Linked DNA regions of Homo sapiens: all the other regions are reported to be linked to region 1. The links are microRNA targets in miRTarBase. Many come from high-throughput screens and were not tested one by one. Region 1 holds a microRNA gene; each other region holds the end of a gene's coding sequence.

What was found. Region 1 holds the annotated microRNA hsa-miR-3149 (UUUGUAUGGAUAUGUGUGUGUAU, at 3,727-3,749, shown strand). A microRNA usually pairs through its seed, bases 2 to 8, with sites in the 3' UTR of a target mRNA and lowers its output. Matches are read on the target gene's strand: a 7mer-m8 pairs with bases 2 to 8, a 7mer-A1 pairs with bases 2 to 7 and ends in A, and an 8mer does both.
Region 2: the mRNA of ZMYM4 is a reported target of hsa-miR-3149. Seed matches in the 3' UTR shown: 7mer-A1 at 3,956-3,962.
Region 3: the mRNA of PLCL1 is a reported target of hsa-miR-3149. Seed matches in the 3' UTR shown: 7mer-A1 at 2,971-2,977 and 7mer-A1 at 2,913-2,919.
Region 4: miRTarBase lists ANKRD13A as a target of hsa-miR-3149. Seed matches in the 3' UTR shown: 7mer-A1 at 3,539-3,545 and 8mer at 3,139-3,146.

What each region holds. Positions count from the first base shown.
Region 1 is chr8:76,962,369-76,970,526 of GRCh38, reverse strand. It overlaps MIR3149 (microRNA 3149), which reads left to right and starts at 3,677; the gene lies at 3,677-3,759.
Region 2 is chr1:35,416,651-35,424,808 of GRCh38, reverse strand. ZMYM4 (zinc finger MYM-type containing 4) reads right to left here. Exons shown (of 30, transcript NM_005095.3): 29 at 6,237-6,366; 30 at 2,751-5,339. The coding sequence ends at 5,132. Among named protein-coding and RNA genes, the nearest start is that of ZMYM4-AS1, 55 kb to the right of the region's middle.
Region 3 is chr2:198,144,399-198,152,556 of GRCh38, reverse strand. PLCL1 (phospholipase C like 1 (inactive)) reads right to left here. Exons shown (of 6, transcript NM_006226.4): 6 at 2,694-5,777. The coding sequence ends at 5,595. Among named protein-coding and RNA genes, the nearest start is that of LINC01923, 230 kb to the left of the region's middle.
Region 4 is chr12:110,034,412-110,042,569 of GRCh38, reverse strand. It overlaps ANKRD13A (ankyrin repeat domain 13A), which reads right to left. Exons shown (of 15, transcript NM_033121.2): 14 at 6,242-6,309; 15 at 2,807-5,211. The coding sequence ends at 5,016. C12orf76 (chromosome 12 open reading frame 76) reads left to right here. Exons shown (of 2, transcript NM_001389625.1): 2 at 111-1,393. The coding sequence ends at 196. Among named protein-coding and RNA genes, the nearest start is that of C12orf76, 10 kb to the left of the region's middle. RefSeq lists an enhancer at 1-71.

The sequences.
Region 1 (8,158 bases):
CAGGTTATTTCTTTAAAATTTCATGACCAGTTTTGTTTCAGTTAATCCAAAGATAAAACATCTTCACAACTTGTAAACAAGTTTTTTGATGTGAGATAATTTAGGAGGTAAAAGATTCTAAATTACTATAGTACCTATTTTTGCATTAAATAAAACCTGCCTTTATAGCCAATCACAACTGTAGAAAGTCTGAATTATTTCATATGTCTTAAATTACATATTAAATATCTAACTCCATACTATATATGCATTTTAATCACTTAGAAGTATGTAGGAAAGTCTAGAGCTAATACACCAGATCTGAAAAATTGACGTGAATATTTAATATTGTCAACTGCCTAAGCTTGTAAAGTCACTATATTTCCACAACTAAGAATCTAAGATACAGGGTCTGACCTAGGATTTTGTATTTCTTCCAGATATCAACACAAAATGTCGACGTTTCTGAGTATTGTTATGGTTTGGCTGCCAATAAGAGACAATGCAAACTTGAATCTCAACTGAGACCTAATCTAAATAGTCACAGTTGGTCAGGCGCCATGGCTCAAGCCTGTAATCCCAGCACTCTGGGAGGCCGAGGTGGGTGGATCACCTGAGGTCAGGAGCTTGAGACCAGCCTGACCAACATGGCAAAACCCCGTCTCTACTAAAAAATGTAAAAATTAGCTGGGTGTGGTGGTGTACACCTTTCCCAGCTACTTGGGAGGCGGAGGCAGGAAAAGTGCTTGAACTTGGGAGGCGGAGGTTGCAGTGACCTGAGATCACGTCAATGCACTCCATCCTGGGCAACAGAGCAAGACTCTTTGTCAAGAAAATATATAAAATAAATAGTCGCAATTCTGAATTATTGGAGCTGAAGTCTTTACTGTTCTTGAGGTTTTCAGAATGGTTCCTTGGTAAATATATCTCACCATACACTCAGAAAATATCATCCTCTCCTGACAGCCTCTATTTTAAATCCATGCCAATTTGTAAGAGTGCCTTTCTAGTCACCAAAAATAATAAAATACTACAATTTTTTTCACTAATTGAAATTATAATTACTTGCTTTAAAAATACTTAGTTCTAGACTAAATATAGAGGTCAAAAAAAAAAATTTAAGAGCAAGGATCCTCATCCAATATCGTGAGCATTATTTCTTAGTTTTCCTTCTCAGACCTAGTGGAATATTTCTCAGTTCAACTTGATGATTCTCTCAAACAGCAAAATAGCCTTTCAGCTCAGTAAGGACAGAAACTGTATCTTTCTCATTTTTGTGGCACTACAGCCAAAAACCGACTGACACAATACAGATGCTCTGTAAATGTCTGTAGAAACCAAGAGAGTTTGAAGTTTGATCATCAAGCCGTTCACAAAGATTGAGCAGAGCAGCTGATGGTATTAGCGTAGGGAGAATTCTATATGCATGTATATAATGTTGTGGAAAGGCCACACCTCAGGTTTGTAGTGTATCTTAGGATTGCCATTATTAATTTAAAATATCCTGTGGCATTCTTGCTTTGAGAAAAACAGTTGGAATTCAAGAGCACAATAAGAGAATTAATAACTTTGCTTTGAAAATACATGCAATTTCAGAGCTGTCAATTTTAGCTATGTCTCTTTAAATACTTTTTTCTTCTAGAATCCAACTGGGTAGATGAAGTTTGTTTTTTTTTAATTCCATTATAAAAGTAATAGCCCTGTTTTGGTGTTTTGTAAGCAGATAATATTCTGCTGGTGACTGTCTTTGCAATAATGCATTGCTCTGAATTCTGAATTCTATTATTTTACATCTACAGCAGCGTAAAGTATTTTTTATAAACAGCAAACTTCACCTCATAAAAATTCATTACATAAGGGCATAAGCAAGTGCTTTTCCTTCTAGTCATTGGCAGTAAGTGATTCATCAGTTTTCCACAGAAAACCAATTTCATTGCAGATGTTCTGTAATTTCCAGTCCTCCTGAATTGTGGAGCCATATCACACAATCCCAATGCCAGGAACATAAGGACTTTTTAAAAGGTCTGTGCTTAGTCTCTTTAATAGGATTGAATATCACTTGCTGTCTCATTGGTTTTATTTTTTTAAAATTAAGAAGTCAGACTCCTTTTCTTTCCTATATATGTTGATTCCACACATGGGTGGATAACTGGTAGCAAATTCAAAACCAACAGATTTCTTCGTATTTGAAACAATGACATTCATTCTTTTCCCTGGAATCAAAGCAGAAATATTAAGAGAAACAAAAGTTTTCCCAAACCTAAATCCTTTTTCTTCAATCGTGCTTAAATTCACTGTTTTTTTACCCCAGAGTAAGGAAGTCAGGCAGAGGGCTGGGGGAAATTCAGGAAGTGTCCATCTGTCAATTAATGGAGCTCCCGAGAATTTTCCTCAGGTAGATTTCTTCCACTGATAACTTGAGTGTGGTTTTGTCTAATGTTTCAAGGTTGAGAAGTGGAAGATAGGTATTCAGTATAAAATATGGAGATAAGAGTGGGGGAAAGCCTGCAGACTCAGTGATGGTCTAAGGACATATATGATAAATGAAAATTTCTCAGAAGTACAAAAGACTTCTCTCAGAAGATTAAACATCTCCTAGAAGGCTTATGAAATTAAAGTCCAATTTTTTTAAGAACATCGTCCTTGGATTGAAAGGTTGAATCAAAAGCATGATAATTGAATTTACTTACAATACAGAGTTATGAGCTATTGCAAGGGTGAAGTGATAGATTTTCAAGATAACCAGTTTGGTTCTGAAGCTGGTCCTTATTTACTCCTCTGCCTTCCATTGCAGCTCTGGTTACCCACGTATTTCCTTTAATGAGTTAAGTAAGTAATGCCCATGGACTTGGTCTCTGCAGGGCCACTCCTATGCAGAGGTCTCCGCTTGTGTTTTAGAGGTATAAATATCTGCCCTTAGCTCTGCCATGGTTCCTGGCATTTAATCATCAATTGAAAGTAGTATGTCTATAAGGGCAGAGCATTATCTATAACGTAAATTCCATGCAATGTGCTGCCTTCTGTTGTGGATTTCCTGCCAGCACCAGTCAGAGATTAGAGGCAGCTGGAGTGGGAGAAAGGTGGCTCGGACACATACATCCGTAAACTATAGAACCACCAATCAAAATCTATTCTATTTCCTCATCTCCCTAACCACTAATTATTTTTTACACATTACCTCTTTTTACTTACTATCCTCTAAATTCATGTTCATTTTATTTTTATTATTTTTTTTAGAGGCGGGGGTCTTGCCATGTTACAGAGGCTGGTCTTGAACTCCTGGCCTTAAGCAATCCGCCTCGGCCTCCCAAAGTGCTGGGACTATAAGTGTGAGCCACTGCATCTGGCCCTCTAAGTTCATTGTAAACTGGCTTCTCCTTTATACAAGCTAAAACTTAAGACCACATGAATGATTAAGCCTAGCCTCCCTCCTCATTCAGCCAAATGATTAGTGAACACTTTTTTCAATATTTTTTTTTCAGTATGTTGGGCATTAAGAATCCAAAGATTAGAGTCTACCAAAGGAAAAGGCAATGGGAGTAAATAGACAAAGTGCTTGGAGAGCATTGAGAAATGAGTGATTTATTTCATCAGAGACCTGTAGAGGCCTTCCAGGGACAAAGATATTTCGGTTTAGTCTTGAGGTATGTAGGATATCTTCAGGTAAAGAAATTTAAAAAGGACATCAAAATGGGATATACATACATGTACACACACATGTCATCCACACACATACATATATATATGTTTGTATGGATATGTGTGTGTATGTGTGTGTATACACAGAACCGACAGATTTCCTCATGTCTGAAAACAATAACATTTAAGAATATCTTAAGAGTATATAAGTTCTTGAGATTTAACACCTGAGCCCCTAACATCCAAGTTTAGATGAGTAGTCATTCATTCAACAGATAATCATCAAGGACTCACAGTCTGCCAGACACTGCTAGGTAAGCATCAAGGATGCAAAGACAGTAAATACAGGACATGTTTTCTGCCCTTAAGAAACTCACAGTTTCCCTGAAAACTAGTTAATCACTATGGAAAACAGGGTCCCGTGAGAAAAGAATTTTATGCAAGAACAAGGTGAAGATGGAGTCATAACATAAGACATCCTTTAGGAAAGAAAGCCCAGGCTGGTAATCCCAAATTGAGATTTTTCCAGGGCCACTAGGAAAGGCTAAGGATGCCTTGGAAGAAAAAGGGAAACAAAACTAGAGAAAAGGCTGTTGAAAGAGGACAGACCAAGTAGCAAACAAATTTTGGCCGAAATGAACCAAAAATTCATCATTCTACCAGGTGGCTGGTACCCTTTTAGAACTTTTTATTCTGAGATGTGTTATAAGCCACTCTTTACAAAAGAGGCAACTAAGTAATTTTCCCAAGGTTACATACACAGCAAGGGTGAGAACTAAGGTCTTTCTGATGCAAAATCTACCCTCTTTCTACAACACCCAATCGCCCTTCAATTTTATCTCACAATTGCTACCAGAGGCTCATTGTTTAACTGGCTTGTCCATACCCTCTGCAATACACTGCTTTCAACAAAAATCAGAATTGTGTCAAAAAAATTTCAAAAAAAGGTCATGCATATGGAACTACCACTTAAAGTAGGGGCGATATGAGAATAGAAACCAACTAGAATGTCCTGAGTAGATATAATTGAGAAATAGGAGAGATATAGTATATTCTTGAGATACTTGGATACTTGAGAGGAAAAGCCCTTGTCCAGACTTTCTTTGACTCAAGAAAGGGAGAATAGTGATTCAGAAAGGGAAGAGTTATTATTGTTTTCTCAGGACTCAACATTGTGCCTCATCCATGGTCATACTCAATAATTACTTGTTGAATGACTAGAAGAATGAATATCAAGGGAAAGGGAAAACACTGGAGATGCTAATTTTAACTTACATATTGGCAAAGCTACTTTCTGGTGGTGATTTTTTAATAAAAATACCAAGTATTGTTGAGAGTATAGAGAAGCTAGCATCTTCTTAAACTACTGTATCAGTGTAAATTTTTTTGGAGAGCAGATTGGTTATATGCATCAGCAGCTTTAGAAAATGCCTCCTTTTTCACAAGAAATTATAGTTCTATAATTTAATACTACTAATAGAGGGATTTATTTACCAGGATGTGCATCTCTATTTACTATGGTGAAAATTGCCAACAACCAAAAATCTCTCAAAGGAGATACACTAAATAAACCATGCTGTAAAAACATGTAGTTTTTCTTATCTATTATTTAGTAAAAAGTAAAAGTTGGTTATAAACAGAATGTACAATATCATCCTGTTTTCCTAAATACAGAATATGTATATTTTTATAGTTATATAAGTCTATTACAAAAGACTAGATAAATTTGTAGTAAAAATGTTGGCAATAGCCATCTATGGGAGATATAGGTAATTTTTATTCCGTTCTATGTGATTGTATGTATTCTCCAAATCTTCTACAATAGATATATAATTATTTTATAAAAGGAAAAAGGATCAGGCTGGTGGCTCAGGACTATAATCACAGCATTTGGGGAGACCAAGGTGATAGGAATGCTTGAGGCCAGGAGTTCCAGGCCTGCCTGGATAACATAGTCAGACCATGTCTCTACAAAAAAATAAAAATAATTAGCTGGGTATGGTGGTGAATGCTTATAGTCCAAGCTACTTGGGAGGCTGAGGCAGGAAGATTGCTTGAACCTGAGAATTTGAGCAAGACCCTGCCTCAAAAACAAAACAAAACAGAAACAAAAATTCAAAAACAAAAATTAAAAAAAAACATAAAAATGTAAAAGCAAGCAACAAAATGAGAAAAATATTTTCAAATTATATAAAAGGTAAAGAGTTAATGTACTTAATTCCCACCTATCTACTAAAAAATAATGAGCCCAAATACAAGAAAAAACAATCCTCAGAAAAAAAGAAATGAAAATGGCTAATGGACTTATAAAAATATGTTCTACTTGGCCAGCAATGAAAGAGAAATGGTGATTAGAACAAATTAGAATAAAAATGTACTATATGAATATGAATATTTATTGTTGTTGAAAGCCCAGTAATGATATACTTGGGGAAAGCAGTTTTCCATTATGAATGAAGAGCCTTAAACAACTCACAGCTTTTGACCCAAGATTTCTACTTCTCAGAATCTATCATAGTAAAGCATTCAGAAATGGGGACAATGAATTAAACATATATGTATATTAAAAAGTGATATGCACTCCTAGGGTTTACATATGTATATGTTAAAGGTATTTATGGAATAAATCCTAGGAAAGCTTAAGTTGAGTCACTTGAGGTGTTTTGACTGAGACTGAAAATTAAGGAAGATAACTTCTGCATGTTGACATACAATACTTTCAACTGAGTAACAATAATAATATCCTAAATTCAAGTACGGTTGGTGTACCATAAAGATGTACATTTCTAGTCATTTAAAAAATGTTACTTGAATTGAAATGTCGTTTTTTTTAGTTAGCTTGTTAGATAAAGCCAACAAGGAAATAAAAAAAAAAAAACAATGAAGAAAAGGGTATTGTGTTTGTTGTTATTGCTGTTGCTGCTACGGTTTTTATCTTAAGTGCCTGTCACATGGTAACATTCTATAAATGAATATTGATGAATGGACTTCCTACAAATTAAACGTGAGTCCTTCTTTTCAAATAGTAAGGTGTTTGAGTTTCACTGAGTTCATTGTACCACCGATTTTTCCAGTGTTTATTTTCCTCTATTTCTTACAATTCTGATTAAACTGCTATCACCAGAAATAGGTATTTGTATACATATTTGCTAGACTCAATGTTCTACTTGGCTAAAAACACCAACTCTTAGATATTCTGATCTGTCAGAAACTGTTTCTAATCTTCAGTGAGGGCTATGGTTTGGAAGGTAGAGTATGTTCCAAGATGCTCAGCAACCTCTTGAACCAGGAAACAGGATCTTTATCTTCCTGACCTTCTATTTATCTTTTGAAAAGACAGAAGCAATAACATTAGCTATGTAACTAACCTGCTAGCTCAGGTTCCTCTTTGTCCTTCTTAGTGGGCTCTTTCCATTTTTCTGTTTTCTTTCAGCATTCTCTATTGCTGAAGTATTTGGGGGAAAAAAACTGTTCTATTAACTTACATTGTTTACAGAAAAAAGTTTATTTTCTTTAAATTAGTTGGCCAAGTTAACATTCAGTGAAAACAAGGTATTTGATGTTTATTATTCTTACTTTCTTGTTTCAGTGAAATATAGATACTTTATACTTGTACACTTATTAACAAAGTCAGGTCCTGACTGAAGACCTCCGTTTTGAAATAGAAATGATGTCCTAGCTCTAAAGTACATCCAATCAAAGCAATTGAGTTCGAAGCACAAAACAACACTAGCGATTTCATTATCTACGTTAGAAAATATGGGAATGCAGGCACATAATCTAGCCAAAGACTAATCAGGATTTCATCCACAACTCTTCATACTAAAATAATCTATCAAGTAGGATTTTTAGGCTAAAGCTATCTGATACCTATGTAAAATCACAGTCAACTGTAGTAAACATTATACTGATATGCAAATATAAAAAATTAAGTGTTTCCTGAGGTTCTTCTACTCTTTTCCTGAATCTTTGTAGTTCAAGGATTATTCCTTTTACAAAAACCAAATGAAGCTCTTCTTCTTCCGTTCCATAGTCAGCTCTTATCTGTGATCATATATTTACTGGCCACAGTGCTTATTTGGTAAGTAATCATAAAATCACAGGCTTGAAAGTACTTTTTTAAAGAATACCTCTATAAAACCTTTATTAATTGGGTATTCAGACTCCATTTTATTACTTTCAGTAACTGAATTCACAGTCTCCCAAGAAAAAATCAGTCATGCTTTTGAGATGTTTTATTTACTTAAAGTGTTTACCTGTCATTTCAAAATAGTTGTCTACTGGTTATAATTCTGTCCTGTAAAGCCATTAGAAAAAGTAGAATATTCCTTCCTCAAGAGAGTTTTTTATATATTTGAAGTAAAACACAGCAGGATTGTCTTCCTTTACTCATGTCCAGTCAGTCACCTCTAGCACCAACCATACACCCATGCTGCAATGGAAGCTGGGTCAAGGAGCGGCATTGGAGCTGAAATTCAGGCTGCACTCTATGTGCCAAGTGTTGGACCCCAACACTGGGACTGTATCCACCCATAGAAGA
Region 2 (8,158 bases), not on the chromosome of region 1:
ATGTACTTCTGGTATGCTGCCCTTTCCCACATGGACAAAACTGGTTTGCCATGACCACGTTCATGCTCCAGATCAGAGGAAAAAGGGAAGACAAGAGAGGAGCATGCATTTTCCTTTTAGGAGTGTAGCCTGGGAGATGTAAACTCACATCTGCTTCCATGCCATTGGTCAAAACTTCGTCCCATGGTCACTCCTAACTACAAGTTAGCCTGGAAAATACACTTTTTTACCAAGGGAGCCACTGCCTAGCTAAAACTTTTGGGGAAGGAGCAGTTCTGTTAATGAAGTGAAGCGTGGGGAGATTGCTGTTGTACCGTTGTCTTGTTCCTAAACTGATGACATATATAACCTACCAAGTAAAAGAAGTTTCATAGATTTAAGGTTTTTCTCCCAATTAAAAAATAAATTTATGACCTGGCATTCATATGCAAAGAAATATAAATAGGCCAGATGTAGTGGCTCATGCCTGTAATCCCAGCACTTTGGGAGGCCAAGGCAGGCAGCAGATCACCTGAGGTCAGGAGTTCGAGACCAGCCTGCCCAACATAGTGAAACCCCATCAAATACAAAAATTAGCCAGGCATGGTGGCGTGCACCTGTAGTCCCAGCTACTCAGGAGGCTGAGGCAGGAGAATCACTTGAACCCAGGAGGCAGAGGTTGCAGTGAACCAAGATCGAGCCACTGCACTCCAGCCTAGGCAACAGAGCGAGACTCCATCTCAAAGAAAAAAAGAAATATTAGCCAGGCGTGGTGGTTCACACCTGTAATCCCAACACTTGGGAGGCTGAGGTGGGCAGATCACTTGAGGTCAGGAGTTTGAGAACAGCCTGGCCAACATGGCAAAACCCCGTCTCTACTAAAAATACAAAAATTAGCCAGGTGTGGTGGCATACACCTGTAATCCCAGCTACTTAGGAGGCTGAGGCAGAAGAATCACTAGAACCCAGGAGGCGGAAGTTGTAGTGAGCCAAGATCGCACCGCTGCACTCCAGCCTGAGCAACAGTGAGACTGTGTCTCAAAACAAACAAAAAGAAATATAAAGAAAAAAACTAATAAACTCTATCATATGCTGTTCCTATATATACTGATATACATGCCCATTTCTTTCTTTTTTCTTTTTTTTTGAGACAGTCTTACTCTGTTGCCCTGGCTGGACAGTGTAGTGGCCTGATCTCGGCTCACTGCAACCTCCGCCTCCCAGGTTCAGGTGATTTTCCTGCATCAGCCTCTGAAGCAGCTGGGATTATAGGCACCTGCCACCACGCCCAGCTAATTTTTGTACTTTTAGTAGAGATGGGGTTTCACCATGTTGGCCAGGCTGGTCTCGAGCTCCTGACCTCAAGTGATCTGTCCATCTTGGCCTCCCGAAGTGCTGGGATCACAGGCACGAGCCATCGTGCCCAGCCCCATTTTTCAATATAGTGAAAATATCAATGGATTCTTGTGATGTTGATTACTATTGATATGCACATAAGCACAAGTGAAGAATTTGTAATTTTGTTTGATTCAAATATGTAGAATTGGTTATATAAATAGAGTATTATGTTTTGCAGAAGCCAAAGTGCTATACTTAGTAAAAATTCAGACTGTAGTGTGGGAATTAACATTTATTTAATGTGTTAGTACAGGCCAGGAAATTTGCATGTAATAAAAAATATCTGACATTTGAAAGCCTACCATGTGCCAGGCACAACTTAATAAGGGAGTTATACCCACTTTATAGATAACAAAACTGAGGCACAGAGAGGTTAATTTTTATTTACTTATTTTTTTATTTATTTTTTTGAGACGGAGTCTCGCTCTGTTGCCCAGGCTGGAGTGCAGTGGCACGATCTCGGCTCACTGTAAGCTCCGCCTCCCGGGTTCACGCCATTCTCCTGCCTCAGCCTCCCGAGTAGCTGGGACTACAGGCGCCCGCCACCACGCCCGGCTAACTTTTGTATTTTTAGTAGAGACAGGGTTTCACCATGTTAGCTAGGATGGTCTCGATCTCCTGACCTCATGATCCTCCTGCCTCGACCTCCCAAAGTGCTGGGATTACAAGTGTGAGCCACCGTGCCTGGCCTGAGGTTAAGTAATTTACCTAAAGTTATACAACCAGTAAGTAGAAACACTAGGCTTCGACGCCTATGATCTCTCCACTACATAGCATTGCCTCTCAATCACTATTCTCTTCAATGATGATAGCACAGTGTAACAGACAAGTGCTAGTCTAGAGGAGTTCAGGGTATGATTGCTTCTTTCCTAAAACTTCAACTCAATACCCTAGGAGACTTCTTTGGAAAATTAAATTCTGAATTCATTAATAGAAATTCATTTTACATTAGATCTTTTGGGAAAACCTGTTTTATAAATTTAGGATTGCCACAAGGCAGGTAGGTAGAAAGTCGATACGGAATTTGAAAGTACAGCTGCATAATACCAAGACAACTCTGAAGTCGAAGGAAAATGCTATTTAGTCTTACATTCCTGTTTTAAACATGTATTTATACTTAAGAATGAACATATCCTTTATTCTAGTCTTACAATTTCATTAAAGTTGAACTGATGTAGGCTTTGTAAATCTCAAAAAAGTTTGCCTGAAATGATATGTATAAATGATCTCTGATATTTCTACCTGTTGGGACTTTGAATATAGTCAGTAAATTAGCTAAAAATGGGAACAAGTCTTTTGATGGAAAAAAGGAAATAAAAGAACTTGCAATGAAAAAATATGTTGACTGGACTACATAAAAAAAATTTCTTTCTCGGAAACTGCTCTCTTTCTTTGTAATTTTACTAATTGCTGGGTCATACCAATAAGGTCAATCAGAAAAAGAGATTTCAAATTCTTTTAAGACGTAAAGAAGAAGAACTCACCCATCAAATACAAATATACTATTTTATTCTAAGGGAATATTTCTGTGGTTTCTGTAAGGGGAAAACCTAAAAGTGGTTAAAAACTGAAAAAGAACAAAAAGGATGATTTAGATGTTTTTGTTTGATGTTTTTTTCTCCCCTGGAAAAAAAATGTAATTTTACACAATTTTCATAAAATTAAAAAAGCAATAATCAGACGCACACATCAACAGCTACACTTATGAGGAATGACCAATAATTAATCAATATTTTCTCTTATGAATAAATTTAGGGTTCTGGGCAACTCTGTGGACTAACATGCAAATGAAATCCTGATACAGTCATTTATCTGGGTATTGGGTGTTCTCAGTAAAAGATACAGATTTTTTTTTCTGGTATTTCATAACAATTTATCTACTATGCTAACAATATTTGTTTTTTCATACAACTACAGAAGGGGAAAATGTTAGTGTTTATACAAACCATAAAATTCGTATAGTGGGGACTATTACACTTGCTATTTCTGGATAGTTTATTGGCAGACTTATCAGACAATCCAATTATTTGTCCTCCATATCGAACAAGGTATGGAGTAAGAAGTTTTCCAGTCAGAAATGACAAACACAGATGGAATTAATCATACAGAATCGGGGTGGATTTACTTCTTTCATACAGTTCTTGGTAACAAAAATGAGATTTGTTACAGGCAGAGGGACAGAACCACCAAGTACACAATGTCAGAAGGCCTACTTTTTTCATTTTAGTTTTACTTAAATGCCTTTTATTTGTTAAAAAAGAAATACACCTGCCACCCCCACCTAAAAAATGAGATACCCTGAAAAGTCTTTCAAGATTAAAATTTCTAAGAGGCTTTTTGACATCTCTCAGTTTTATCATAGCGTCAAATTAACCTTAGCTGAAGAAGTTCTGCAATTGGCAAACGTCATAAAAGCTTTGATTCCAAATTTTGTGGGGAAGAAACTGAGAATGGAGATGAGGGAGATGGACTGATATGCCACACACACCTATGACTTGCAATCCTCATAGAACTACTGAAACAGCTAGAGTTTGGAATAATGCTCTAAGACCTGCTTATGGATATGCAAGACAATGTCTTTGTATCCTCACCCCAGAATCCCTATTTTCAAGTTTCAAGGGCAACAAGGTCATCTTCCAAATGCTTTATATAGGAACCTAACTAGGACCTTTTCTATCATAATTCAGATAGCTAAGTAATACTGTATCTTTGTGGAATCACTCACAGGTTTGCCAGAGTAAGAAAAGAGACTATCCTTTTTGAAATGACAAGGGCCTCCAGAAACTGGTGCAAAAGACAAAATAAGAGGAACTGTTTGGGAAATAGGAAGGTAAAACAACGGGAGAAAAGCTGCCATTGGGGAAAAAAAATGAAAATAAAAGGAGAACCCCCATTTCTCTGTACCACAGCTCAGGCTGTGAGACAGCTGCAATAAGGGCCCACACCCAGAGAAGGGGCATTTTAGTGGGTTTCTACAAACATTTCAAGACACTTGGGGTCTGATAGGCTCCACAGATTTTCTGTGTGCATAATTAGTTTGTGGAATATCATCCCCTTTACCTTAGTTTACCCACATCCAGACCCACCGCTGAGAAGGCTTGATCCAGAAAATGAAAGGGACACATTACTGTTAACAGCAGTGAAGGTCATTTTCCCTGATGTGAGGGGCCCATGGCAAAAGCTTCTGTCCTTCACATGATTGGCTTGGCAGTGAAAATCAAAATCAATCAAGACCACTTCACTATCTTTTTTAAAAAGTTGAGTATTTTTATTGGGTCTTCAAATCTGGGTCCCACAGTCCTCATTTGATGTCACTCTTAGCTCTGTACTGATCTCTCCTCTGACTTTTACGGAGGGCTTGCCAAAGTAGCCTATTGCAGCCAAAGTTTCACTCCAAAGCTACCTCTCTAAGGTCTAAGGTTACTATGGTAAAGTTTTATACAACAGTTTTCCTTAAAAATATTCCACGATTTGTTACTCCCAAACAAAATAAGATTATGCACCACTCGGAGAAATTAGTCATTCTGAAGATGTCTAAGAACTATATCACTGCCAAAGAACATTTCTCAGTTCATATTCTTTCCTTCAATTTTCATTTGCACATCCACACTGTGGGGTTCACAAGTCATCTGTTTTCCATGATCTTATGGTCAAGTCAAGAGGACTTAGACTTATACATCATTTTCCAACAGCTGGATGCATTCACAGTTTGGTGCATACCAATATGTATGAAAATAAGAACCTCACTTCCGTTTTAATCTGATAATTCAACATCAGAGTCTTCAGATTTGGCTTTGGCAAGTTCTTCATGTACCTCCCTCACCATGAGAATACGTGTTAACATGGTGTCCAGGGTTCCAGGGTCTATCGGGAATGTGGAGTACCACATGGGGCTATTCGGGACACAGGAGCGCTCAGGTTGAAGGTAAAACACATCATTCCTTTGCTTCACACTTTCAGAACTATCCACAGGGGAAAAAAAAAAAGAGAAAAAAGAAAATTAGAAATCAGAGAGTATAGGAAATATGTACTATTCTTAAGTAAACTGAGGTTTTTGCCATTAAAAGTAATTAAAAGTAAGGGCAAAAACTGCAATTATTTTTGCACCAACCTAATATGGCTCTCAACCTTTCTCCACTGTGACTCACAATGGGGAAAGCAAGGTACCCACAGAGATAAATAGTTTACAGGAATATTTCCTCCCAGGAATCAACTGAAATCACAATGGATTGGAAGTGAGTATAAAGTTAATATAAGACAAAGTGTAAATCATAAACTTTAGTACTTCAAACATTATTAAGAGCAACAAAAAAGTCAACTCACATGTGACACTATGGCCAAGCACCACATATTGGAAGTGCCCAATATCCTGGAATGAACTCCAAGGGCACTCAATACACATTATCAAAGGGCAAATGAAGCTATTACATTTCTTTCAGAAAAAAAAGTGTTACAACTCTAAAATCATAAAGTTCCTCTAAGAAAAGGACTACTTAGAAAATTTCAATTCCTTAAAAATTGTTTTTCTATTATAGCTTTAGCAAAACAAAATTTCTTTTCTATACAAATAACAAAATAACTACAGATTAGGTATCACATAAAGGTTGTACAACAGTTGTAAAGATCAAACAATAGCAGTGATTCTTGCTTTTGAAGACATTTTCATAAAATAATTATGAAGACAAGGTAATTTGTTTTGTGGTTCAAAATCCACATAGATATGACAATGGGGAAAAAATTCATGGTAAATCCTTGTCTAAAGCCACGGGCAAGCTACTTTTCTGATGTTCAAGCATCTGAAATCCAAAATATGTTAACTGCCTTCTGAGTGCACTACATTCAGTTCAGAGAAAGATTACCATTTTGACAGGTAAAACTCATAAAGTCGGACTGGGCATCTTAGTGGATTGTCAGTATTCTCTGCCATCTCCACCCCCACTGGAACCTCATCATCTTCATTTCGTTTCCTCTTGCCAACAGTCAGTTTATCTTGAGACAGGAAATAATAATCAAAGGATTATATTAGAAAAGTCTATTCTTTGAGTCTCAAGACACCAATGAGCTTTGCTTCGCAGCCAGAACTTTGTCATTTCCTCCCTTTCACTCACTCACACTCATTCAACAAATACTGAGTGCCTATGAAGGTGCCAGACATTATTTTAAGTGCTGGATTCTATGGCATTAAACAAAGTCCCTATCCCATGAATTTTATGCTCCCCTGCTCACCAAAGTGGGGGCACCATGACAAAAAGTATGGCACTGGCACTGGAAAACGTCTCTATTCTGAGCCTGACTTTATTAATAAACTTCATTAGGCACAGGGTTCCTGAGACATATCAAGATAAAGCAGAAAGAAGGGTTCCACATGTTTTTCTCCTACAGTAGAGATCAAGACAGAAGTTGCCATCTCTTTTTTTTTTTTTGAGACGGAACTTTGCTCTTCTTGCCCAGGACGGAGTGCAACGGCGAAATCTCCGCTCACTGCAGCCTCCACCCAGGTTCAAGGATTCTCCTGCCTCAGCCTCCCAAGTAGCTGGGATTACAGGCGCCTGCCACCATGCCCAGCTAATTTTTTTGTATTTTTAGTAGAGACAGGTTTTCACCATGTTGGCCAGTCTGGTCTCGAACTCCTGACCTCAGGTGATCAGCCCACCTCGGCCTCCCAAAGTGCTGGGATTACAGGCATGAACCACCGTGCCCGGTCGCCATCTCTCTTTTAAGAGACAGGGTCTCACTCTGTTGCCCAGCCTGGAGCATGATGGTGTGATCACAGCAGCCTTGAATCTCCGCAGCCTTGAACTCCTGGGTTCAAGTGATCCTCTTGCCACAGCCTTTGGAGTAGCTGGGACTACAGGTACAAGCCACTGAACTCAGCAGAAGCTGTCATCTCTATGAGAATATTTCTACTGTGGGGCACTAGTACTGGGCATCTGCTCAAGTTTATTTGTTCGAATATTGTGAGAAATGGCATCTTTGTTGGGAAGAGAAATTATCAGCAGAGTTACTATTTGGTAAGAAAAGAACAAACCATTTTTCCCCAACAGTATTTTGCAGAGGCCAAGCATTATATAAGGAAGTCAGGGTGAAGATACGGAAAGTGGGCTATTTCTTTCCCACTTTTTCCATTCACTCCTCAAGAGAACACTAGATGGACCTAAGGAAAAAAGGTTTTCTTTCTTTTTTTTTTTTTTTTGGGAGACAGGGTCTCACTCTGTTGCCCAGGCTAGAGTGCAGTGACTCCATCACAGCTCACTACAGCCTCAAACTCCTGGGGTCAAGCAATCCTCCCGCATGAGCCTCCCAAAATATTGGGATTACAAGCATGAGCCATTGCACTCAGCCTATATCTGCTCTTAACAACCGGTATAGGACTTTCCCCAGCTTCCTGCATTATTACTTTAACAAAACTCACCCATTTTCCATTTAGCAGCTAGCTAAATAGAAAGACTTTGCTAGTTACTCACTTAGAAAGCAAGCTGAATTCACTACTAATCATGTCAAGCACCCAATCAGCAAACAGGGAAACATTATCCACCTGCCTTTCCCTCCCCCAGTTAATACCAACTGAGGCCAGGCATGGTGGCTCACGCCTGTAATCCCAGCACTTTGAGAGGCCGAGGCGGGTGGATCACCTGAGGTCAGGAGTTCGAGACCAGCTTGCCCAATATGGTGAAACCCCGTCTCTATTAAAAATACAAAAATTAGCCAGGCGTGGTAGCACATGCCTGTAGTCCCAGCTACTTGGGAGGCTGAGGCAGGAGAATTGCTTGAACCTGGGAGG
Region 3 (8,158 bases), not on the chromosome of region 1:
ACAGTTTTTGCTTTGTTTTCAATACTTTAAAGAAGTTGCTCCACCGGCATCTCATCTGCACAGTTTACAATAAGACATACGCTGTCTTTCTTATTTTCTCTGTACATGTCTTTTTTTACTGGCTGCTTTTAAGATTATCTCATTATCACTACTTTTGAACTATTTGGCTACAATATGCCTTGGTTGTTGCAATGGTTTGAAGGTGTCACCAAAACTCATGTGTTGGAAACTTAATTGGACTCCCTATGCCAGAGTGTTGGGAAGTGGGGCCAAGTAAGAGGTAATTGGGTCATGAGAGCTCCACCCTCATGAAAGGTGTTGTCATCGGAGTGGGGTAGTTGTAGAGGAGGTGGCTTTGTTATAATAGCAAAACCTCCTTCATATGGGCTCTCTTGACCTTCCACCTTTTGCCCTTCTGGCATGGAATTACACTCACCAGATGCCAAAGCCATGCTCTTGGACTTCTCAGCCTCCAGAACTGTAAACCAAATAAACTTCTTTTCTTTGTAAATTACACAATCTGTGGCATTCTATTACAGCAGCAGAAAACAGACTAACTTGTTTTTCTCATGTTTCTTGTCCTTGGAATTTTTGAGACACTTGGATCTGGAGGTTATAGTTTTCATTACAAATGAGAAATTTTTAGCCATTATTTCTTCAAATTATTTTTCTTTCCTGCTCTTCTCTCCAGTTTCATACATATTAGATTCTTGAAGCTATTTCACTATTCTCTAATACCCTGTTCATTGTTTAAATTCTTTTTATTTCTCCTTTTATAACCCTTTTACTGAGATAATTTACATACCATAAAATTCACTCTTTAAAATATACAATTAAATAGCTTTTAGTACATTCACAAATTATGTAAACAAACATCATCATTATTTCTAATTCCAGAACATTTTCATCACACCAATAAGAAAACTCATACCCATTAGCAGTCACTCCCAGACCCCCACAGCCACTGGCAACCATTAGTCTACTTTCTATCTCTACTGATTTGCCTATTCTGGATATTTTATAAAAATGGAACGGTACAACATGTGGCCTTTGTGCCTGATTTCCTTCACTTAGAATAATGCTTTCAAGGTATACTCTTGTAGCATGTATCAGTACTTCATTTCTTTTATTGTTGAACAATCCAATGTATGAATATGTAATTTTTATTTATCCTTTCATGAGTTGATAGACATTTGGATTGTTTCTACTTTTGACTATTATAAAAAATGCTGCCACAAACATTTGTGTACAAGCTTTTGTGTGGACATATATTTTCATTTCTCTTGGGTAGAAATCTAAGAGTAGAATTGCTGGGTCATATGGTAACTCCATGTTTTTTTAACCTTTTGAGGAAGTGCCAAGCTGTTTTCCAAAGCAGCTGAAATATTTTACATTTCCACCAGCAGGGTAGGATGGTTCCAATTTCTCCACATCCTCACTAACACTTGTTATTATCTGTCTTTTTTATTATAGCCAACCTATTTGGTGTGAAGTCATATCTAATTGTGGCTATGATTTATGTGATCTTAGTGGTTAACGATCTTCAGCACGTTTCTATGTGCTTATTTCCTGTTTGCATATTTTCTTGGAAGAAAAGTCTATTCCAATCCTTTGACCAGTTTTTAAAAATTTGGTTTTCTTTTTATTAAGTTGTAATAGTTCTTTATAAATTTTGGTTGCCAGTCTCTATCAGATATATGACCTGCAAACCTGTTCTGTGGGTTCTATTTTCACTTTCTTGGTAGTATCCTTTGGAGTACAAAAGTTTTTACTTTTAATTAGATTATTTAGAGTCAATGAACATATTAATATGCATCCAATCTCATTAGAGATTAAAGATAAAGAGAAATAAGATTTTTGTAACTTAGAAGATTGGCAAAGATGAAAATAAGAAAAATTAAATTTATCATTAGCAAAGATTTAAGCACTCTCATAAACTCCTGGTGGGGTTTTAAATTGAACAAGTTTTCCTGAGACTATTTGGCAATGTATCTCAAAATCCCTAAAAAACAAAAATGAAACAAAACAAAAAATCTCTGTATCCTTTGACCCAACAATTCCACTTCTAGAAATGTATCCCAAAGAAAAAGTTGAACAACTTTGCAAAAATGGATTTTATTATTGGAATGTTTATATAACAAGAAATTAGGTGAGTAAAATCTAGCAATAGGAGATTGGTTAAATATATTCTGGTAAGCCATATAATAAGATACTGTATAATTATTATAAATGACCATTAATTTTTTTTTATTTTTTAAAGACAAGGTCTTACTATGTTTCCCAGGCTAGTCTCAATTCCCAGCCTCAAGCAATTCTCTCATTTTGGCCTCTCAATAAATGATAATTTTCATCAAGTTTCACCACCTATCATGTCCTTAAGGTCCAGATGTAACATAAATGAATGAAAAGGCTCTCTAGAAAATTGGACAGCATATGCCCCTTTTGGAGAGGGCAGTTTCAATTAACTGATGCCAAGCAAGAAAGTATATGTGTGGTGGTTGTGAGGTGGGGAGTGGGAGGTGTTCTGTGTTGTTAGATTATCCAGTATTTTAAAACATGCAGGACATTGAATTGTACGTAACATTTTCTGAATTTCAAAAGCTGTCTATTGCTTAAAGATTTTTTTAAAAAATGTTCAATGGCCAAATAAAACACATCATTTTTGGACTAGATTCAGTTCAAATGCTTGGAACTCTAATGTAAATACACATTTATTGACACAGAAAGATATCCATAACATATTGTTAAAATTTTAAACACCCTGCTACAAACAGTTTATATAATATCTCAATTTTGTTAAAATACAAGCATATTTACATATATGTATAAACTCTAAACAGTGTCTAAAGGGATATAAATCAAAATGTTATTAGTGGGTAATTTTGCTTTTCTGTTGTATATAGTTCTCTATTTTTGTATTTTTATATTGACCATTAATATTTTATATTCAGAAAATAAATGATACAGTTCTTTGTATCTGTGGTTATAAAGGTAAGAGTTAATAGTCTGGTTTAAAATGTTAAGAATAAACTTAAAATCAAAATCACTAAGTATATAATCTTGCACATGAAATCAGACAGACCCAAGTTCAAAATCAATTATTCCATTAATTACCTCAGTGGCTTTGGGCTTTCTCACCTGTAAAATGCCAGTGATAATACCCGCCATCTCCACCTCAGATCCTATTGGTGATGTAAAAATGAATAAATAAAAATAGAATTAATATCTAAAACACTACATTCCTAGCATCACCAAATCTAAGTAGATAGAAGAGAGAAGGGGGCTTTTTCTACCACAGTTCAAGTCTAGAAAGGAGACAGATGCTCCTCATAGAATGTAACAATGTCATGGAGGCATAATACACAAAAAAAAATTGTTTGTTTTTGCTATTCTATCTGGAGGCAGGAACATCACAGGAGACTAGGAGACTTTTCCCTTGCCACCTCCACTCCCAGAATCCAAAGCTCCTCCCTGCTCCACATCTCACTCCCCATCTAGCAAGGACACCCAGTGGAATGAAGCAGAGTATGGCTGACAACCCACTGCCAGAAATAGCATCAGATGAGGCAGAATCCATATTACGTTTTTGAGAATTTTTGGGTGGGTCCTAAGTGTGAGTAGAGCTCTGGGACAAATAAAATAAACTAGAGAAGCTACTTCCAAGGATTGGATTTGACCCTGGAGTAAATAAATGTATAAATATTGTTTGAGAGTTTGTCATCCTTTATCTCCTCTTCCCACCTAACTGTATATCCAGTAAAGACATGGATTTACCAAATAGAATTCAAGTAGATGAAGAGGTACACTAGTAAAATCAACCAATCAGCTGATGTAAGGTGGGTTTTGTTTCTGTCTATAGAACCTCTTTTTCACCACAAAGGGCTTAACACCTGCATTCCACTATTCCTCCTACCAGCAAGTTAAATATAACAGAGGGTAAAGAAATTTTTTCAGGCCATTGTAGCATCATTGGAAACTTGCCTTCAAATGACTTCAGGTACCTCCTCCTCGAGTGCCCAGTTTTAAACCCAGGGAATAATTTCATCATATCTGGTCCATGGAAATAGCAAACTCTTTAAGATATTTTTGATGTAGTAACCCATTTTCATTAGCTTTGCTTTTTCAATTCACAATAAAAGAAAACAATAAGTGTTTTTTTCATATCTTTACTCTTTCAGTAATGTGCAACATAAACATAATAGTGTTAAGAAGTCAGAAATAACACAGAAGCTATAGGAGATGTTTATATTTGCAAAATTTCAACAATTATCTTCTCTAGGTTTCCCCAAATTAGCATATTTGTTAATCAAATTAATTAAGAAGCTTTTCAAAATAAAAGCAATGCTTTAAATAAATATATTCTTTCATAACCATAGAACATTTAGTTCTGTTGGAGGTAACAAACATTACACTCAAGTACTTTATGAAGACATTAGGGTAAAAATTACCTAGATGCAATTATAAATGTACCCTAATTAGTCATTTCTTTTTGCATGTATGCTTTTCTGTGTGTGTTAGGGTTATATCATAGATGTGTGGTAACTGGTTAGCTCTTAAATTATCACAAAGATATTATCGGACCCACAGAATTTATATCAGCTCAATGTGATGATATGATATTGTTTGAACAATATCTTTAAATTTAAATTTAGTACCCTAAATTACATCCAAACAAAGCCAACACCTCTAAGCTGCCATATCTGTTATAGAAAATGAGTGCTAGACTCTCAGCTTGGAAGAATGAGACCTTCCTACAAATCTCGAAATTATACAACAATATTATTGTCACATCAAAATCCTAATTGCAACAGAGCTTTCAGTGTGTTTCAGAGTACCACACAGGTAGGTATAAATTCACTTATGATCAGCTTTTCTAGTGAAATCATATGTTTAGTAAATGACTACAGAAAACTTCCTAAAAATTGATTTTATTTAATAAATATTTTTTAAAGTTTTCTGACTGAAGAAATGACCTTGCTAATCTTTTTAGAAATTCTCATCATCTGTTTAATCTTTCATTCACTTTTATTTCTACTCTGATTCTTAGGAATTTTTCTAATCTATATTTAATCTACCAAAACATCTATGCTTTGATAAATTTGGCTTCCTTCAATAATAAGCTATGCTAAGATCACTAAATTAAATGTCAAAGGCAGAGAAGTCAAATTAAACACAGCAACAGGTTACAGTAAGTGCTCTTTAGAATTTCAGATTAAAACAATTGTCCCAAAATGATCAAGGAATAACTCACTAAATGAATAATGCAACACAGAATAGATTTTAACAGAATTTCTCTCTCTCTCTCTCTTTCTCTCTCTCTGCCACACACACACACACACACACACACACACACTCTTCCACAGGCATCCACACAGGGGTGTTGACACATGTCTCAGAATTTAAAACACTGATACTAAAGGCTTTAATTTAGATAAATTAACTACACTGAAATACTGACATTGTGAAAATATCTATGTCCAATACCCCATATAGGGCACCATTTTGTGAACTTATAAAACATTTAAAGAAAGAAAACAAGAATGAGAAACCAGAGTCCTTGATAAGATGGGTGAACGTGTCGATAATGCCCAGAGTCACAGCTTCCCATTCTCCTCACTACTTTCCTTCTCCTCTATGGCTTCCAGGCTGCGCTTGCTCTTGGCCTCAGCACTGCTGCTGGGGGCTTTACTCAGTCCACAGGACAGGCATGCCAGCTGGATCTGCTTCATGTTTTCTATAGCTTCATTCTTGGCATTCTTCAACAGATCTCCTTGGCCCTACAAACAGAAAAAAACAGGCATCAAAGAAGACAGTTATGGGCCAGGCATGTGCTGAGTGACATCACTCTATGTTCTTACTGCCCATTGCTGAATAAGGAAACAGACCCAGACCTGCAAGCTCACTTTTCCAGGGTTTAACCCAAGGTTCTTTTCTAACATTATTAAGTGACTTTGCTTGTTAAGCCAAGTACCTCAACCTGAGCCTGACCAGCTGGCTATGCAATTGCTGGCAGTCCGTTGAGATTCCTATTGTGAGGAATCCTCCTCTTTATGTGCTGAGGACATCAACTCTTCCATCACCATGGTCTGAGACTCTGCACACTGCTGCAATACCTACCCCGCCCAGATCCAGCATTCCTAGTCTTGGGAGAAAACAAGGAAAGAAGCTCTTCCTTAAAGAAGTGAAAATAAAATCTCCCCCTCTGTACAAGAGCTTACAAAGCAAAGTGTCTTCTGTAAAGTAAGTCACATACCCTTATGCTTGGTGAGCTGGTTTTTAATATACTGGGTCATCCTTGCAATCTGCCTGTTGTTAAATTATCAGTCACCCACATTACTTCTGCCTTTTCCATCATCCTGAAGATGATGTTCCCACCTGGCAGATGGAGAAAAAGAGTCTCCAGAGGCAAAACAAAAAGGAAATGAGGATTGCAGGAACACATTAGCTGTCATTTACATCAGTGCCCAACAGAGATCTTTTCCTGCTATTTTTATTTCTTATTTTAGTTCACTGTTATGAAGATAAAGTGCGTATACTGATACTGGCCCAAGGGCTGAATGACTGAGTGTGGGGAAGCAGGGACAGGTGTCTATGGCCCATAGACAGAGGAAGAAGTAGCTTCTTCCCTCTCCTCTCCATTCTCATGGCAGTGCCTGAAAGTGTGACCTTGAAAGGACAATATGGGTGGATATGGGGTTATGACGATTGCTGGAGCATTATTCTACAAAGCAGAGGCTCAGAGAAAGGATAATTTACCTATTTTATGAAAGGCCAGTAAATGCTTTTTCCTTAGGGTGTATGAAGAAACTTGTATTTTACAAAAGCTTGGAATATTTTATTTCTCAAAACCTAAATATGCACTTGCCAATTCTATCCTCTGTAAAAAATAGCTAAATCCTTCTAATAGCAGCTTTTAATTATATGGGATGATTAAATAGTTGGGCTTTGCCTGATGTTTGTGTTAAAGCGAACTTCTTCTCAAGTACATCAATTATGGTATGGGATTTTGGAAGAAGAGTTGGAGGTGGACAGTTTTGCCTTCTCCTGAGGAGAAATGAAGCTGAGCCTGATGAGGTTAATTGACTGTCCCAAGGTCACAGCTGGTTAATCGCTGAGCTGGGACTAAAGTTCAGGCCTTTGGCCTCCTGCATCAATGCTCTATTCCCCACACCATGTTTACAATCTAGTCTGAGACTAAAGACTAGAGATTAGAGCCTAAAGACTCTGTCAGTGAGAGATGTATTTTCTAAAGAAAAAATATTTACTACACCAGCAGACTTTGGGAAGTCTGTTCTTAACACTATAGACATCACGAATGAGTCTGCTCAACAAAACTGCACATTCTGCACATGTATCCCAGAACATAAATTTAAAAAAAAAAGTGAAGTCACATCCACTTTGAAAAGTGCAACTCTTCAGTAATAATAATAACAGACCAACATATGAAGTGCTTGCTCAGTGTGGTCACTCTTTGTGCTTTATACATGTTCATTCAATCATTCATTACAACATCCCTATGAGATGGGTACTTTCATTATTCTCAATTTACTGATTAAAAAAACTGAGGCCCAGAGCACAGTCACCCTTCCCAAAGTCATACAGCTGCTAAGTGGTAGAGCTGGAGCTTAAAATCCAGCAGCTGGCTCCGGGGTCTGTGGTTTTAACCACTACCTGATAGGCATCTTTTAACAGCAAAGCAGGCACTCTCTGCAGGGCACCCTAGAGACTCCTATTCATTGTTACCCATGGAAGCAACGCAGATAAAAAGAAAAGCATTGCCCATGTGACACAGCCTGACACAATTTAGAGATAGCATCCAGAATCAGGAAGACAGGGCAGAGCAAGAACACACTAGCAGGGACGAGGGTTGGAGCATCTTCAACCAATTTTTATCTGGGCCATTTTCTCTTCTGCAAAAATGATGAAAATATCCTTCAGCCTTCCTTACAGTTCTAAGATTAAAGACAATATGTTGAAGAGCTCTTTATGATTTAAATGATCATAAGTATAGGAATCACAATGATATAAGGTGATTTAGAAAGTGGTTAACATTATCTGCTACTATATATAATAAGTATCTTGGTACTATCTATATTTTATTAAAAATTTGACTAACATTTAAAATGCATCTACCAGAGTCTGTTTTACAGAGATATGT
Region 4 (8,158 bases), not on the chromosome of region 1:
CTTGACATAGTGCCTGGCAGCAAGTGGCATTTGATAAATCATTGGCAGTGAGTGGATGAATTGCCTAACCTGGAGCTGCCATTAGGAAGTAACCTGTTTTCCCTTTGCAGTGTTGATGGGAACCATTTTCAGCATCCTGCTGGTGACTGTCATCCTTATGGCATTTTGTGTCTACAAGCCCATTCGGCGTCGGTGACAGCCAGACAAGTTCTTCAATGAGTATTTGGGAATAGGATAAGTTGTGTTGCACACAGGCCAGTGGAGAAGTTGGAACCAAAACTTTCCTACTTGGAAATGACCTTTGGTCTGGACAGTTGGTAAATGCTAAATGAATTAGAAGAAAACATGTACTAGACATTATTTTTTCCTAACACTGTAGCGCAAATAATTGGCCCCTGAGTCCGCTTCTCAGTGTTTCTGACTGTACTTGTTAAAAGTAAGACCTGAAAGCTCCAAAGGTCAGTGTAAAGATGGAGTGTTCATGAGAAAGAAAACATGGTAACCTTGTGAGTGCCTGTAAGAACCACACTGTAAAGAACTCATCATTAATGCTTGAAAATGTTATTAAGAAGGAGACTTACCATGCAGACATTCCCTATTTAAGAACCATTTGGTTACAGTGGGTTAAGAATCACAGATTTTTTTTTTTAATCTCACCTGAGTTAGCCTAGAATGCGCTGGTTGCAAAGTGGTGTCAGCTGTGGGGATCTTGGGCCCTCGTTCCTCACCTGCATCCTGCCCTGCACTCAGGTGCTCCCCCTGAAGTCAGGGTCACATCAGGTAGACCTGTTACTATATGCACCTTTGGCCTGGAATGCTCTGAAGTTGGACTGGAAATGTTACTAGGTTGGCCTGTTACAAAAAGGACCCCATCCTGCTTAAACACATTGATCTCCCTTGCCCTGCATTTGAGTCTTTCTAGCCCACGGTCTGAAACTTGAGGCAGCTTTCCAGATTTGGAATGTAAAAGGCTCAGTGGGCACTCTGTTCATCCCTGGGTGGGGAGGGCCCAGCCAACAGAAGTGCATGTCCACTGTGCGGGCCAGTGTGTGTTTACACAAATTTCATCTCAGCTTTGAAAATGCTGCTATTAGTTTCCACTGTTGGTGAACTGGATTTTTTCCTCCTATTGAAATGATACTTTCATACTTATAAAGCTGTCGTCAATATTTATTTCAAGGTGCTAGATTTAATTTTGTTATTAAATTGAAATGCTTATCTTGTGTTCAAGCACAGCACTGATTTTAACAACCTGCATTTAATGTGAAGTAACCGAAGTAGGATACTGTAACTGTGTAAGGATTTTGTTTGTAATCTTGTAACATTGAACCATTGAAATGTTCAGTTCTTTGCTTTTGAGCAAAACGTCAATTAAAACTAAAGTAAAATCCTATATATTGTTTTACTCCACCAGTTATTTCCCAAGTGTTTGAAATGCAGGTGTGTGTCTGAATTTGATCTAATCACTTAAAGAAGCTCTGTGAAGTGAAATTTCTTTTTTTGAGACGGAGTTTGGTTCCTGTTGCCCAGGCTAGAGTGCAATGGTGCATTGTTGGCTCACTGCAACCTCCACCTCCCGGGTTCAAGCGATTCTCCTGCCTCAGCCTCCAGAGTAGCCAGGATTACAGGCATGAGCCACCATGCCTGGCTAATTTTTTTGTATTTTTAGTAGAGATGGGGTTTCACCATGTTGGCCAGGCTGGTCTCAAACTCCTGACCTCAGGTGATCCACCTGCCTTGGCCTCCCAAAGTGCTGGGATTACAGGCGTGAGCCACTGCGCCTGGCCTAAAGTTGAGATAAAAGTCTCCTAGTGCTGCCTATGATTTAGTGACTGTGGAGTCATATCAGCATGTTGTATTTTTTTCCACCTGGACCTCAGGCTTAAACCTACACATATTTCTAAACAGAGGCCTAGGTGGTACTTTGAACTTCATCACTCACTGTACCACTGAATCACTTGAAATCTCCACATCCAGTTCATCTTCCTTGATGTCATTTGTGGTCAGCAGGAGACTGCGACCAAGCTGGCAGTTATGGCAGTTTCCCTTTCCTGTCATTATTTAGAGCAGACTTTCAATCCCTTGACATGCCACGTTTATGTAGTGTGACAAGCTTGTTTATAGAGCAGAGTGCCTTAGGAACTTAGTTCCTAGCAGTGTCTAACGTGCAGAAGTTGCTCAATTAAAGTTTCTGGCCGAGTGCGGTGGCTCATGCCTGTAGTCTCAGCACTTTGGGAGGCCGAGGCGGGTGGATCACCTGAGGTCAGGAGTTCGAGACCAGCCTGGCCAACATGGTGAAACCCCGTCTCTACTAAAAATACAAAAATAAGCCAGGCATGGTGGCACACGCCTGTAATCCCAGCTACTCGGGAGGCTGAGGCAGGAGAATCGTTTGAACCCGGGAGGCAGAGGTTGCAGTGAGCCAAGATCGCGCCATTGCACTCCAGCCTGGGCAACAAGAGCAAAACTCCGTCTCAGGAAAACAAACAAACAAAAAAAAAAAACCACTTCCTGCTGATATTGGGCCACTCAAGCTTAGCTTTTCAGTTTTTAAATAATCCATAGTCATTGCACCTCTTGACCTGAAAGAGTAATGGTTTTCTTCATAGTGTCCTTGTGGCTTCAAAGTATTGATATCTACTTTCCCCTAAAAGCAAAGCAGCTCCTTTACATCTTCCCAGAAATACAGCCTCATTTCTGGAACCCATACATTTCTACTGGCCACTGCCTTTGTTGTTTTTAATACCCGCTTATTTAGATATAGGAAGAGTTTGGAAGCCTTATCATCTGGACTTCTAGGAACAGCCTCACAAAGCAGTTGGCTTCAAGGGATAGCATTGATGCAGAGCTTTGATGTTGGCTGGGCTTCCCTTACCCCACAAGAGCCAGTTCCCCTCCAGGAGGACCACAGAGGTGTCAGAACAGCCCAACACTGGCTTGCTTTTAGTTGCCATTTGAAACAAGCAGCATGGGGCTTGTTAACCTGGGCAGGAAGGCTGGGAGGAGCATGCCACCTTTGCAGTGATGAACTGAGCGAAGTGAGGCATTCTAATGTTCTACTGACATACGTAACAGGAAGTGTGGGTACATCCAGTGACTAGAAAAAACTGAAAAGGAAAAAGACTCAAAGACTGGAATTTTGTATGAGCACCCTCTAAGGAAGCAGTCTTTATTTGCATTTTTAGAGTGAACACATATATGAAAAACACTGCAACAGGTTGACACAATGCTCAGTCCCTTTTTAAGTGAATTCCTGGGGAGAAAGTCAAGGACCTTAGGGAGCAGAGCAGTGGAATGCAAACACAGAAATTACCTATGAGTCACTTTTGTGAGCCAATGACACGGCCTCACTGCAGCCATTCCAAGAAGTATCTTTGCTCACGGTAAATGCAAAGTAAACAAAATACCACACTGCATATTTGAAACAAACAAATGTGACGTTGCCTATACTGGCCTCATGTGCAGAAGGAATTTTGGTCAGACAATGACAAAAAAAAAAAACAAAACAGATTGTGAAATGGAATTAAAAGCACAATTCTTTGTATCTGGGAACGTTTCACTGGCAACACTAACTGTATGATACAGACGTTACCTGGAACAGTAGTTATGTTTCTCTTCCTATCCCCAAAGAAGCACAATAGAAGAAATAGACGCAAAATGGAGGAGGGTGTTGTTTACCAGGTTATTTCAGTGCAGCCTGTGGGAATGAATACACGGGCCACAGTGAGCAGTGCCCTTGGCTGTATTCCCCAGGGTTCTGTATGTTGTGCGATGGTTATATACAAGAGGGTTTGACAAAAGAGAGTTAACTACTAAAGGTATCCAAAAAAGGCCTGAGAAAATCTGGTTAAAATGTATAACCTTGTATTGCTACTGATGGGAGTTGTTTTTATATCTTTTACAAATAATAAAAAGATTGTTAAAAAATAGATTTATCCAGAAAGATGTTGATTTGAACTCTAAAAAGCAACGTGGAATCATTATTTTCCCTTTTGAATGAAGAGCCATGGAGCTCCGTGGTTTTCAGCTCCCTTTCTGGTTGCAAATCAATCCTTCCTCTGGAGTGAGTCTAGGGCATGCGGGCTCTTCCTAGGTGTCTACGTGGAAATCCTTCACTCATGCAGGTGTAGAACACACCTGGTTTGGTTCTGTGTGTTCCAATATTTTGGCCAGCTTGCCCACTTCAAGAACAAGCCTCAGGTTCCCCTAGCTGCTCCTTCAGGGACAGGATTAGCTGCCTTTGATTTAGCCTGGAGAATCCTGCTCTCAAAAGAATTGCCTTTACAAATTCAAATCAGATCCTTCGATGCGTGCAGTGAGGTGATGTGAAACTATTAGTAATGTTTAAGGCTAAGGCAACATCCATGGCCATTTGTGTATCTTAATTTGATGCAAATAGTTAACAATAATCTAAAATAGATTCTATATGTATCTCCTCTAACTTTAGCTGGGTGTGGAAGGAATGGAATCAGATAGATGGAGGAAGAATAATGACAATGTCCTAGAAACCCTGTAAAAAGGTAAAAATAAGGAGATCAGCACAGATTACCCATTTCTTTGGTGAACAGTAAAGAAGTGTCTCCAATTCTCATAGATCACACTTTACAAAGGCGGCTGCTGCTCTTATATATAAAAGCACCCTGACTCTGCAATAACTTGTCTTGTTATCACTCCTTGATAAAAATTTATCTACAAACCTGCGGGGATTGGGGTTTTGTCTAAAGCTGGTAGTAAAAATGTGACCTGCAAGCCAATACAGCTAATGGAAAGTGATGATGCTCTCCTCCCCTTAGCCTGGAGATGGGGCCTGCAATCCCTGGTCCCTTCTCCACCCCAGGGAGCAGCCTGGATGGGCCCAGGAGTCCCTGGTTCTGCACCTCTGCATAAAGAAGGGGCAGTTGTTGCCTGCTGCATGCACGCAAGGTGCAGGCCCTTAGCCCTAGGGCCCTGGTTGACACAGCATCTGTGACAGCCCACAGCCTCTGCTTTGTGCAGAGGCTCACAGGCTGAAAGGTCTATTTGTCAGTGAGTGACAGCTGTAAGACTTGCTGGAGCTCAGCCTCTTCCTCCTGGAGCCGGAGCTCCCATTCCTCCAGCTCTTTGGCAGAGAGCTCCATGGCTAGCTGCAAGTCATTATCAAAACGGCTTGTCTCGCTCAGGGCGCTGGGGCACAGGCCTTCTGTGCTGGTGAGGAGGCTCTCCTGGATGGCCCTGGGTTGGAAAACAGATAAAAAGGGAGAGTCACTACTATCATCATCATGGTGGCAGCAGTAACTACATTTCTTAACCGCTTACCAAGGGCACACTGTGCCAGGCATTTAATATGCATGATGCCAATTAATCCCACATAACTGGCGGTGTAGGTGTTGTATACGGGTGAGAAACCCCACAATCTTGCCCAAGACCACCCAACCAGTAAGTGATAGGGCTGGGAATTGAACTTGGATCTGTTTTAAAGCAAAACTCAGGTTCTTCATCAACAGGCTCTCATAGACACCTTAAGTATAAGTCTTCGTAAAATGAATCCTCGCGGTTTTTCCCGTAATCTCTGGAGCTGTTCCTCCAAACTTCCTTATCTTTACAATTATATAAACTTCCCACTGAGGACATCTAGGCCCTGTGATCATACATCATTCATAGAAGATCAAACCAATCAGAAAAAACTGACTCAGTACGTTTCCCCCAATGGCACTGACCTGTGAACCAGTCAGCAATTCTATCACCCATTCCTGGAAACTTGCTATCAAGAGTCTAGAGTTATTATAAGTAACTGCCACAAGAGGAAGCAAGAGAGCCAACACTTTAGTCTTTTTTTTTTTTGAGACGGAGTCTCGCTCTATCGCCCAGGCTGGAGTGCAGTGGCGCGATCTCGGCTCACTGCAAGCTCCGCCTCCTGGGTTTGCCATTCTCCTGCCTCAGCCTCCCGAGTAGCTGAGACTACAGGTGCCTGGCACCATGCCCGGCTAATTTTTTGTATTTTTTTTAGGAGAGACAGGGTTTCACCGTGTTAGCCAGGATGGTCTCAATCTTCTGACCTCGTGATCCGCCTGCCTCGGCCTCCCAAAATGCTGGGATTATAGGCGTGAGCCACCGCTCCTGGCCTACTTTTTCTAGTCTTTCCTGCCAGTTTGTGGCACCGTACATCTGCCTGAGGACCAAATGCACAGTGCCACGCGTCTGCTCGCCTGTGTCCAGGCCTGTGTTCACCCTGGTTTATTCCAGAGTCACGTCAGTCAATCACCTCTCATACTGGGCGTCATAGGTGTTTGTCTGGCTGATCCCTCCATTCGAAGCTGGTCCTGAAAGTTCCTGGCAAAGACAAATGTGATAGACATGAATACGTCTTAGGAGAAATTGGTGCCATTCTGGTAAGGAAACGATGGCAGCAAGAACCAAATTAAAAGTCTTTCCATGACCATTATCAATAGTGCTGTGTGAAAAGCTAACAGGGACTTGGGTTACCTCAAAAACAACACCTAAGTGGGAGGTAGTAACATGCCACAGCCTAACTCACAGCCACAACCTTCTCATCCTTTGTACAAAATCAGTCTCTTAAATACAGCTAACCCACGTGGAAGATATACACAACGAAAAGCAAAAACACAGCTGACCTTGGGCAAAGTTCAAGTGACCAAAGCAGGTTTTTGTTTTTTTAGAGACAGGGTCGCACTCTGTTGTCCAGGCTCAAGGGTAGTGATGTGATCGTAGCTCACTGCAGCCTTGACCCCAGGGCACAAGAAATCCTCCCACCTAAGCCTCCTGACTAGTTGGGAATACAGGTGCACACCACCATACTTGGCTTTTAAAATTTTTTGGTAGAGGCTAGGCATGGTGGCTCACACCTCTAATCCCAGCACTTTGGGAGGGCAAGGCTGGTGGATCACTTGAGGTCTGGAGTTTGGGATCAGCCTGGACAACATGGTAAAACCCCGTCTCTACTAAAAACACAAAAACTAGCTGGGTCTGGTGGTGCGCACCTGTAATCCCAGCTACTCGGGAGGGTGAGGCATGAGAATCACTTGAACCTGGGAGGCAGAGGCTGCAGTGAGCCAATATTGTGCCCCTGCACTGCAGCCTGAGCAAAAGAGTGAGACTCTGCCTCAAAAATTAAAAAAAAAAAAAAATTTGGTAGATATAGGATCTCACTATGTTGCCCAGGCTGGTCTCAGACTCCTGGGCTCAATCAGTCCTCCCATCTTGGCTTCCCAAAGTGCTGGGATTATAGGCATGAGCCACTGCACCCAGCCAGTAATTCTTCTAGGGCAAGATTAGAAGACACAATTCAATACTGGTAGTCTTTGACTTTGGCTACTTCCCTTGTTAAAACTTATGGTCAACAAGGTTTATGAAGCTACTTGGGAGCTGGCGGGGGGAGCTAAGCTCACTTACATAGGGAAAGGAAAAGCATACCAGGCTGATGGTGATGTGCAGGGGTCTTCTCCCAGGATGCCTCCCAAAGGGAACATGCTTGCTTTGGGGTCTGGCTCGGAAAACTGAATGGGTCTGGGAATGGGGCCATGGTGGTGGCAGGGGGAAGTGGAGGAGGTAGACTCACATTACACAAGCACTAAGACTCAGGAATAGAACCAGAAAGCTATAAGCTTGAACCAGTGAGGACGCTGGAGTGTGAGCACTGTTCTCAAAGCAGCAGCCCTGTGAGGGCAGGGGCTGCTTCCCAGAGAATTCCCAGCACCTGGCACAGAGCCTGGCACAAAGAAGGTACTCTGCAAATATCTGAATGAAGAATGGAAGAAAAAGCCAATTAACAAATAAATGGACTGCAGGAACCCAGGACACACCAGAGGGTGCTGGAGGCAGACCAGACCCTACCCTAGTAGAGCCAGGAGGCACAGAAGGAAGGAGATGGAAGGAGTTGATGTTAGGGGAGGAGGACCTCAAGCCTTGGACTGTCCCAGGTAGGTGAGGCATGGAGGGAGAACCAGATATGACAATAAAAGGCAACTGTTCTACTGGGCACAGTGGTGCATGACTTTAGTCCCAGCTACTTGGGAGGCTGAGGTGGGAGGATCTCTTGAACCCAGGAGTTTGAGGGTGCAATATGATCATGCCGGGGAACAGCCACTGCACTCCGACTTGGGCAACATAGAGTCACACACACACACACAAAGCCTACTGCTTACACAGGTCTGTCCTGTCC